Linked DNA regions of Homo sapiens. The protein of the gene in region 1 purifies or fractionates together with the protein of each later gene. This does not show direct contact. Each region holds a gene or a part of one and is shown on either strand. Other genes may lie near its edges. The genes, in order: CORO2A and RMND5A.

Region 1 (3,819 bases):
GCAATCCATTCCTATAGACTAGGACGTGACTAGTGCCCCCTGAAGTTGGGTATAGAACAACCAGCACAAATACACGCAGCAGCTCTGCAGACACCCCATACAAACAGATGAGAAAGCGCTGTGGATCGGAAGAGCGAGGGCCCAGGTTCCCTCAGTGCTCCCCACAACAATTTTAGTTATTTATTTTTGAGACAGGATTGCCCAGGCTGCAGTACAGTGGCATGATCATGGCTCACTGTAGCATCAACCTCCTGGGCTCAAGTGATCCTCCCACCTCAGCCTCCTGAGTAGCTGGGACTACTTGACGCATTTTCCCACACCTGGCTAATTTTTTCTATTTTTTTGTAGAGATGGGGTCTCACTATGTTGGCTGGTCTCAAATCCTTGGGCTCAAGTGATCCTCCCACCTCAGCCTCTCAAACTGTTGGGATTACAGGTGTGAGCCACCATGTCCGGCCCCCCACCTCCCTTTTATCCAACACAGAGGGTCCCGAGGTGTCTCTGTAAACCCCTATAGTGTCAAAAGGAAAGAACTGAAAGGCCATAGCTATGGTGCCACCAATTCCATTTGTGTACAGATTGGGAAACTGAGGCCTAGAGAAGTCAAGGCACTTTCCCAGGCTATAGTGCAGGTCAGAGACTGAGTCGGAATAGAATTGAGGTCTCCTGTACTGTGGGTCCCAATCTACAGGGCCTACTGCCTGCATGCTTGATTGTCAGTGGAGCAGGGTCGGGGGAACGATTTTCTGGGCAGTGCCATCCCATCCACTCCGGGCAGGCTATAATGAGTTGAACAGGGTTCCCCCCAAAACTCATGTCCACCTGGAACCTCAGAATGTGACCTTATTTGGAAATGGGGTCTTCGCTGCTGAAATTAGTTAAGATGAGATCATAATGGATTAGGTGGGCCCTAAATCCAATGATAGTTGCTCTCCTCTTCCTATAAGGAAGACAGGTACACAGAGAGAAGGCCGTGTGAAGACAGAAACAGAGCCTGGAGTGACGCAGCTATAGCCAAGGATGCCTGGAGCCACCAGAAGCTGGGAGAGGCATGGAAGGATTCTTCCCTAGGGCATCTGGAGGGAGCTGGCTCTCCCAACACCTTGATTTTCGATTTCTGGTCTCCAGAACTGTGACAGAATACATTTCCATTGTATTCCAGTTTGTGGGAACTTGTTGGGGCTGCCCCAGAGAAAGAATACCCAGACTCACCTTGTAGTCATAGCCAGCACTGAAGAGGATGTTGGCGGCCGTGGGGTGCCACTCCACCAGGCCTACTCTGCGCGCGTGGCCCACGAGTTCCTTCCTGTAGGCCGTGAGGTTCCTGGTCAGCAGCTGCTTGGGGATGCTCCAGATCTTAATCTGGCAGGGGAGACAGGGCCCAAGGCAGCATTAGCCAGGGCACCTTGGCACCGTCACCAGCCTAAGCCACAGATCTGGCAGTGACCAGCAGAAGGACCAAGGGAGCTCTCTCCATAGCCACCTCCCACTCAGTGGCTATGGGCATTGAGGGGCAGTGGAGGGGCAGCTGAGGGTCCTCAGACAGACAGGGGCTTCCCCAAGCTCCTCCAGCCTGAGCAGGGGCCAGCGCTGACCAGGGATGAGTCTAGGCCTCCAAATCTGCCCTTGAGAGATCTTTGTCATCCTGCTGGCCTGAGGTGGTGGGCAGGTGGCTGGGTTTCAGGCCTGTCTCCTAAGCTAGGATATCCCCAAAGTACAGTGTTCTTCTTGTCCCAAAGACCCAGGGTAGAGCCTCAAATGCCAGGATGAAGGGTTTAGGCTGCATCCTCAGGCACTAGGGAGCCGGCGAGGTCTCTGCAGCAGGGCAGGGACAAACTTCTTGCTTTGGAGGTGCACCCTGGATGGCCTGCAAGAGGAAACTCTGAAGGTCAGGAGGCTGGGCTGGATGGGGTCATGGGCCTGTATTTCATGGTGAGGGCCTGAGAAGAGGTGCTGGGACTTCCTTCCAGAGTAGTGTTGTCTGAAGATGGAGGGGGCTGCCATGGCAGAGAGTAAGCTCCCTGTCACAGAGGTATACAAATGGAGTACAAGGTGATCCTGGGATGCTGCTGACTTGATCTTCCTTATTGGTCCTGCAAGGTTCTCTGGCCCCTAGTTGATTGTATGCACTGTTTCCCTTAGAGGTATACAGGTTTTTCAGGTAGACGACTTTGCTTTCAATTCAGCAAATATTTATTTCCTGGTCATCTTGGATTTAAAACCAGGAAGCCAACCCCACGAGAGTAGTGACAGGCTCCAGATACTTCGGTCTGATGAGGGCTGTCACTGCATAGAACCCCGGGAGGAAGACACACTCTGAAGAGGTATGTTTGGAAGATGAAGGTACCACCCGCAACACTGAAGCAGAGAAGACTCCCCACTGCTAGAGGAGCAACCGTGCCCTCCAGGCCCTGAAGGCAGGGAGGAACACCCCATAAATTCACTGTGGGCATAGCTTCGGGGAGGAAAGCCCCTTCCTTCTTCAGTCCCCCAACAGTCACGTCCTGCCCTGGGGCATCGGGGAAGGGGCAGTGGCAGGCAATGAGGCTAGCAAGAGATTTATAAAGATCTTGATGGGAGCCTTCAAAGCAGTCCTGAAAAGGCAGGTATCACAAAAGTGGGGACAGTTTCAGATATTTGATATCCTGCCAGAGGCCCTATACTCCCTGGGGACAGGGCCAATTCTCACAGGACCTGATTGTCCCTTTGGTGAAATCACCTCGGCAGACACTGTCCTTTACGTTCCTCAGCATCTGCTATATGGAAACCGACACAAATCCTCTTTGAATTTTCTGCCTTCCTTTCCTGATGAACTGGTCTGCTTCTTTTGATCTAACTGAAGGTTTTGCAATACATTCTGTTGCCCATTTTGCCTTGGCTGCCAGGTAGCTCTTAGCTAAACTAGCAGCTTAGCTGCTGCAACCCTTCTTAGCCATCATTTCTAGTATTTCCTCAGTTTCTCCATCTGTGGCTGCTTCTCTTTAAAGATGTGTCACAGCACATTGGAAAGAGAATGGGCTGTGGAATCAGACAGGCCTCAGTCTGAAGTCTTGCTCTGCCTCCCACAGGCTGTGTAACATTAGGCAAATTGCTGTACCTCTCTGATCCTCAGCTTCTCCATCAGAAAAATATCCTACCTTGTGGGGTTGCTGGGGAGACTGTGAAATGATAAGTGTGATGACAGTTAGGAATACAGTGGGCTCACAATAAATGGTGACAATGACTTTTATCTTTATTTTAATCATCTGATCATATCTGTGTTTTTTAATTTTTTAATAGAGACAGGGTCTCACTATGTTGCCTAGGTTGGTCTCCAACTCCTGGCCTCAAGTGATTCTCCCACCTCAGTCTCCCAAAGTGCTGAGATTACAGGTGTGAGCCACTGAACCTGGCATATCTGTGGTTCTTGTCTTAAGCCATACCACCATATTTTAGAAGTGGGTACAAAATGAATTGTAAATAAGTAACACTGAACATTGTTGGGGCAGGGATGATAACCCTGGTACAGAACACGGGCTCAAAAAAGTGAGTGAGACTGAAGCTGCTGGAATGGTTTTAGTGTCCACATTCATCCAAGGCCCTCACAGCCTTTTATAGCTCGCTTCCTCACTATGGGATTAAGTGGAACATCTTTTCTGATCACCATAAAAATGCCCCTCATAGCCTTTTATAGCTCCCCGAAGGATGGGTTTTCCCATCGGAATATACATTTTCACTGGGCTTTATTAGCTGGGTGGAACTATTATGCCCATTTTATATGGGGGGGAACTAAGGCCCATAGAGAGGAGGGGTGGTGCCGCTAGTCCTACAGCACCAAGA
Region 2 (3,819 bases), on another chromosome or scaffold:
TGTACATGCAGAAAGTTTACTGACATCAGCACCTGTGGGAGAATGAAAACAGCAGGATTGGGCAGAGAGGAAAGTTGGACTGTATTAGAGTGGCAACAAGGTGTCTCCCATCCGTGAGGAGCTCTGGAGCTGCTGTGGGCCCGTGGAGTTGTCCCAAATTGGGCCTATAGGGCTGGGGTTTTGTACCCTCACATGGAGCAATTGCTGGATGTGACTCTGGTCAGATGACTCTCTTCAACTGAGGACAGTCCTGAAGAGACGGACACAGCTGAGAGTTGGCTGCCAACACTTCCAGATCTGAGAAATGAGTGCTTCCACCCTGGACAGGGGTGATCTGGGGATAAGAGGAACTATGCAAAAAAAATGTTTCAGGAGCAAGCATGTCATTTGACTGATAAGCTGAGCCCATTAAATCCAGTTGTTTTGTGCAATATAAAACCTTTTTTGGCACTAATGTAAGATTATTATGAAATTCTTTATATTTTACTTTTTGAAACAGGGTCTCATTCTGTTGCCCAGGTTGGAGTGCAGTGGCACGATCGTGGCTCACTGCAGCCTCAACCTCCTGGCATCCTCCCACCTCAGCCTGCTCAGTAGCTGGGACTCTAGGCACATGCTACCATACCTGGCTAATGGCTAATTTTTATATCTTTTGTAGAGACGGGGGTCTCACTGTGTTTCCCAGGCTGGTCTCAAACTCTCAAACTTAGGTAATCCTCCCACCTTGGCCTCCCAAAGTGCTGCAATTACAGGAGTGAGCCACCACCATCTGCTGTTATTAAATTCTCTAAAAACCTTATTCTCAATTCTGTACTTCTTTCCTGTGGATTGAAAATGGTGTGTAAATCAGCACCATCTGCAGACCACATTTTGAGTATCATTGTTCTAATTAGCGTATACCTTGGAGCACATTTTGTAAGAAAAATAAGTCTGGTGGTATATGGTCTGTAAGGAAGGGAATAGGAAAGGAAGTTATGTCTTGTATATTGCTGAGTGAAGAATTTTGTGCAAGAACATCTCTTTTTCCTTCAAACTCAGATGCTAAAACTACTGTATTTGGAAGAGTGTAGTAGTTCTTAATTCCTGCTCTTCATTTGAATTAATTGGTTCTCCAAAGCTGCTTTCTTTTTTAAAATGCATGTTTTAAAACTTTATTTTTCTATTTTCTGAGGAAGTAAGCTAAAGTTAAATTACCCTAGCAGATGAGTTTTTTTTTTTTAACGTTTGCGTTCTTTAACTGCATTTACCCCCATATTGGTGAGGTTTATTTAGAAAATTTAGAGTTTTATTTTTTGTTTTGTTTTTTAACTGGGATTGGTTTTCAGTAACTTCAGGAAATATACCAGTGGGCCTGGGGAAGAAGGGGAGGGAAAACAAGTTATTTCTCTTCTAGTGGAAATGGCTGGATTTACTTTTAGCAGAACAGAAAGCTCTCACCCTGTCCAGTGGCCAGGGTCTGCAGCACATAGAGTCTGGAGAAATTGATGTCTCCTTGGACCAAGCGGCCTGACCCCTGGCCTGGCACTGACGTTTCCTCTTCTGCTCTCCCAGTTTCTCAGCAGGTTGTGTGGCGCTGCCAGCTTTAATTAACATCAAAGCCGTGATTGAACAGAGGCAGTGTACTGGAGTTTGGAACCAGAAAGATGAATTACCTGTGAGTTCCATTTTCTATTGGCTATTTACTTTTACTGCCATTAGAAGAATATGGCATCTTTAAATGTTCATCTTACCTTTTAACCAGGAAACATTGTAGCCATTTGACAGGAGTTCTTTTATGGATATATAAAAGATTAAACAATACAAATGAAGAGCCTAGTACATTTTGGGGACCCTGGAGGAGGAGTATTATAATTTTGACTTGAAGTGCCTTTGAAAGCTGGTGAAGGGAAACATCAGAAGTGGGGAGGGCTGTACATACAGTAGCAGGCAGTGTGTTCTGCAGTGCAGTTCACAGACCACTCCTGTGATTGTTTTTCTAATATAAACGCAAATTTAATTGGTTTTACTTTTGTCTTAACTATTGCTGTCGATAAGATCACGAGTTTGTGCTGGTTACATTTGCCAATAGAATAAGTATAGAGCTCTTAAAGGTCGTAACACCTGCAGTCATCAGTGGGTCTCTAGTACTGTATTTCTACTGCTCTCATGGAAAGGACCATGGTTTTAAACATCAGCACGATCACTTGCCAACTCTAGAACTTCTCTAAGCAGTAGTGTATTCATCTCTAAGACAAGCACCAGCTTTCTCTTTATGGGGCTGCTGAAGGCTAGAGATAACATAAGCATGCTTAGAATAAGACGGGATACATGGTAGGCACTCAAATTGTGGCTGCCATGGTGCAGTTATGATGTGAAGTGGCGAAGGTCATTGTATGTATGTTTCCACCAGGTCTCTGACAGGCACTGAGGCTCTGGCCTGGAATTGTCGTTCCTGTCATGATTGTGTCACAGACCCTGAAAAGCTAACATACGCATTTGTTTTTTTGCCCGTTTTATACCACACCTGTACACGGGTTTATTTGCAGTTACCTTGTTCTTCCAGCAGGTAACCCTGTCAGTTGGTTGCCCCAGCTTCTCCTCAAAGATCTTTTCTGATTAAAGGCACAGGTGCAGTCCTGGTCCTGAGTGTGGTCAGGACACAAGTAGCACTCCTGCTCTACTGCCGCTAACTTGAACAAGTGAAAAGAACTTGAGCCTTCACTTGTTTTGTGGAGGCAGGTGCCTGGCATCTGGCAGTTTCCCATTTATGTTGTAAGCATCTCTGACATGCACTAAGAGCAGACTGAAATCTGAATTCACCTAAAGACTGTGTGTCAAGCCAGTAAAGCCATTAGAGGTGGTGATCAGGTCATTGTTTGTCAGACTTGTTTTTACACTTTGTCAGCTTTCTTGAAAATAATCTTGAAGGCTAATTTAACACTTTGAATCACTAAGACTGTCCATCTGAGTTAGAAGAGTGCTATAGAAAGTTACATTCAGGTGAATAGATCTGATCAATGTTCTTTGCTGCACAGTGTATATTACCATGTGGATGGTTTTGTGAAATATGACTTCAGCTTTTTTACTTTTTTTTTTTTTTTTAACAGATTGAAGTGGACCTTGGTAAAAAGTGCTGGTATCACTCTATATTTGCCTGCCCCATTCTTCGTCAGCAAACAACAGATAACAATCCACCCATGAAATTGGTCTGTGGTCATATTATATCAAGAGATGCCCTGAATAAAATGTTTAATGGTAGCAAGTAAGTGTCTGACTTTTAAAAAATGTTAGCAAATAAATTTTGTTTTGGAACTTGGTAGGAGGATAAGAAGTGATGAGGATTAAAAAAATGTAGCTAGATTTAGAACTAAATAAATTTCTTAACTATTCATTTGGCAAAGTTGGTGGTATCTGATTTGAGTATTTTTAATGTGTCTATGGATTTGGTGATTAGATTTATAAGCATGTCTTTAACTTAACTTTTGGGGTAGGTGATAGATTTTCCCCTTTTTTATACAAATGGTCGCATACTAAAAAATGTTCTGTACTTTGCTGTTTTCACTTAGTGATGTATTTTGGAGATCTTTTTCTGTGCTGCAGAAACAGCCCTCATTATTTTTTTGTTAAAGCTGCAGTATATTCTACTGTATAGAAATATGATTGGGTAGCCAGTTCCCTATTGATGAACATTTGTTTCTCTAAACAGTGCTAAGTGAAGGCCAGGTGTGGTGGCTTATGCCTGTAATCCCAGCACTGTGGGAGGCCGAGGCAGGCGGATCACGAGGTCAGGAGATTGAGACCATCCTGGCTAACACGGTGAAATCCCATCTCTACTAAAAA

What was found.
Region 2: the proteins of CORO2A (region 1) and RMND5A purify together in Homo sapiens (affinity purification with mass spectrometry; one large-scale study listed by BioGRID and IntAct). This does not show direct contact.

Annotation. Positions count from the first base shown.
Region 1 is NC_000009.12:98,133,594-98,137,412, forward strand, and holds part of CORO2A (coronin-2A), read right to left. Parts: intron 1,363-3,819; coding exon 1,213-1,362; intron 1-1,212.
Region 2 is NC_000002.12:86,768,472-86,772,290, forward strand, and holds part of RMND5A (E3 ubiquitin-protein transferase RMND5A), read left to right. Parts: intron 1-1,551; coding exon 1,552-1,654; intron 1,655-3,086; coding exon 3,087-3,241; intron 3,242-3,819.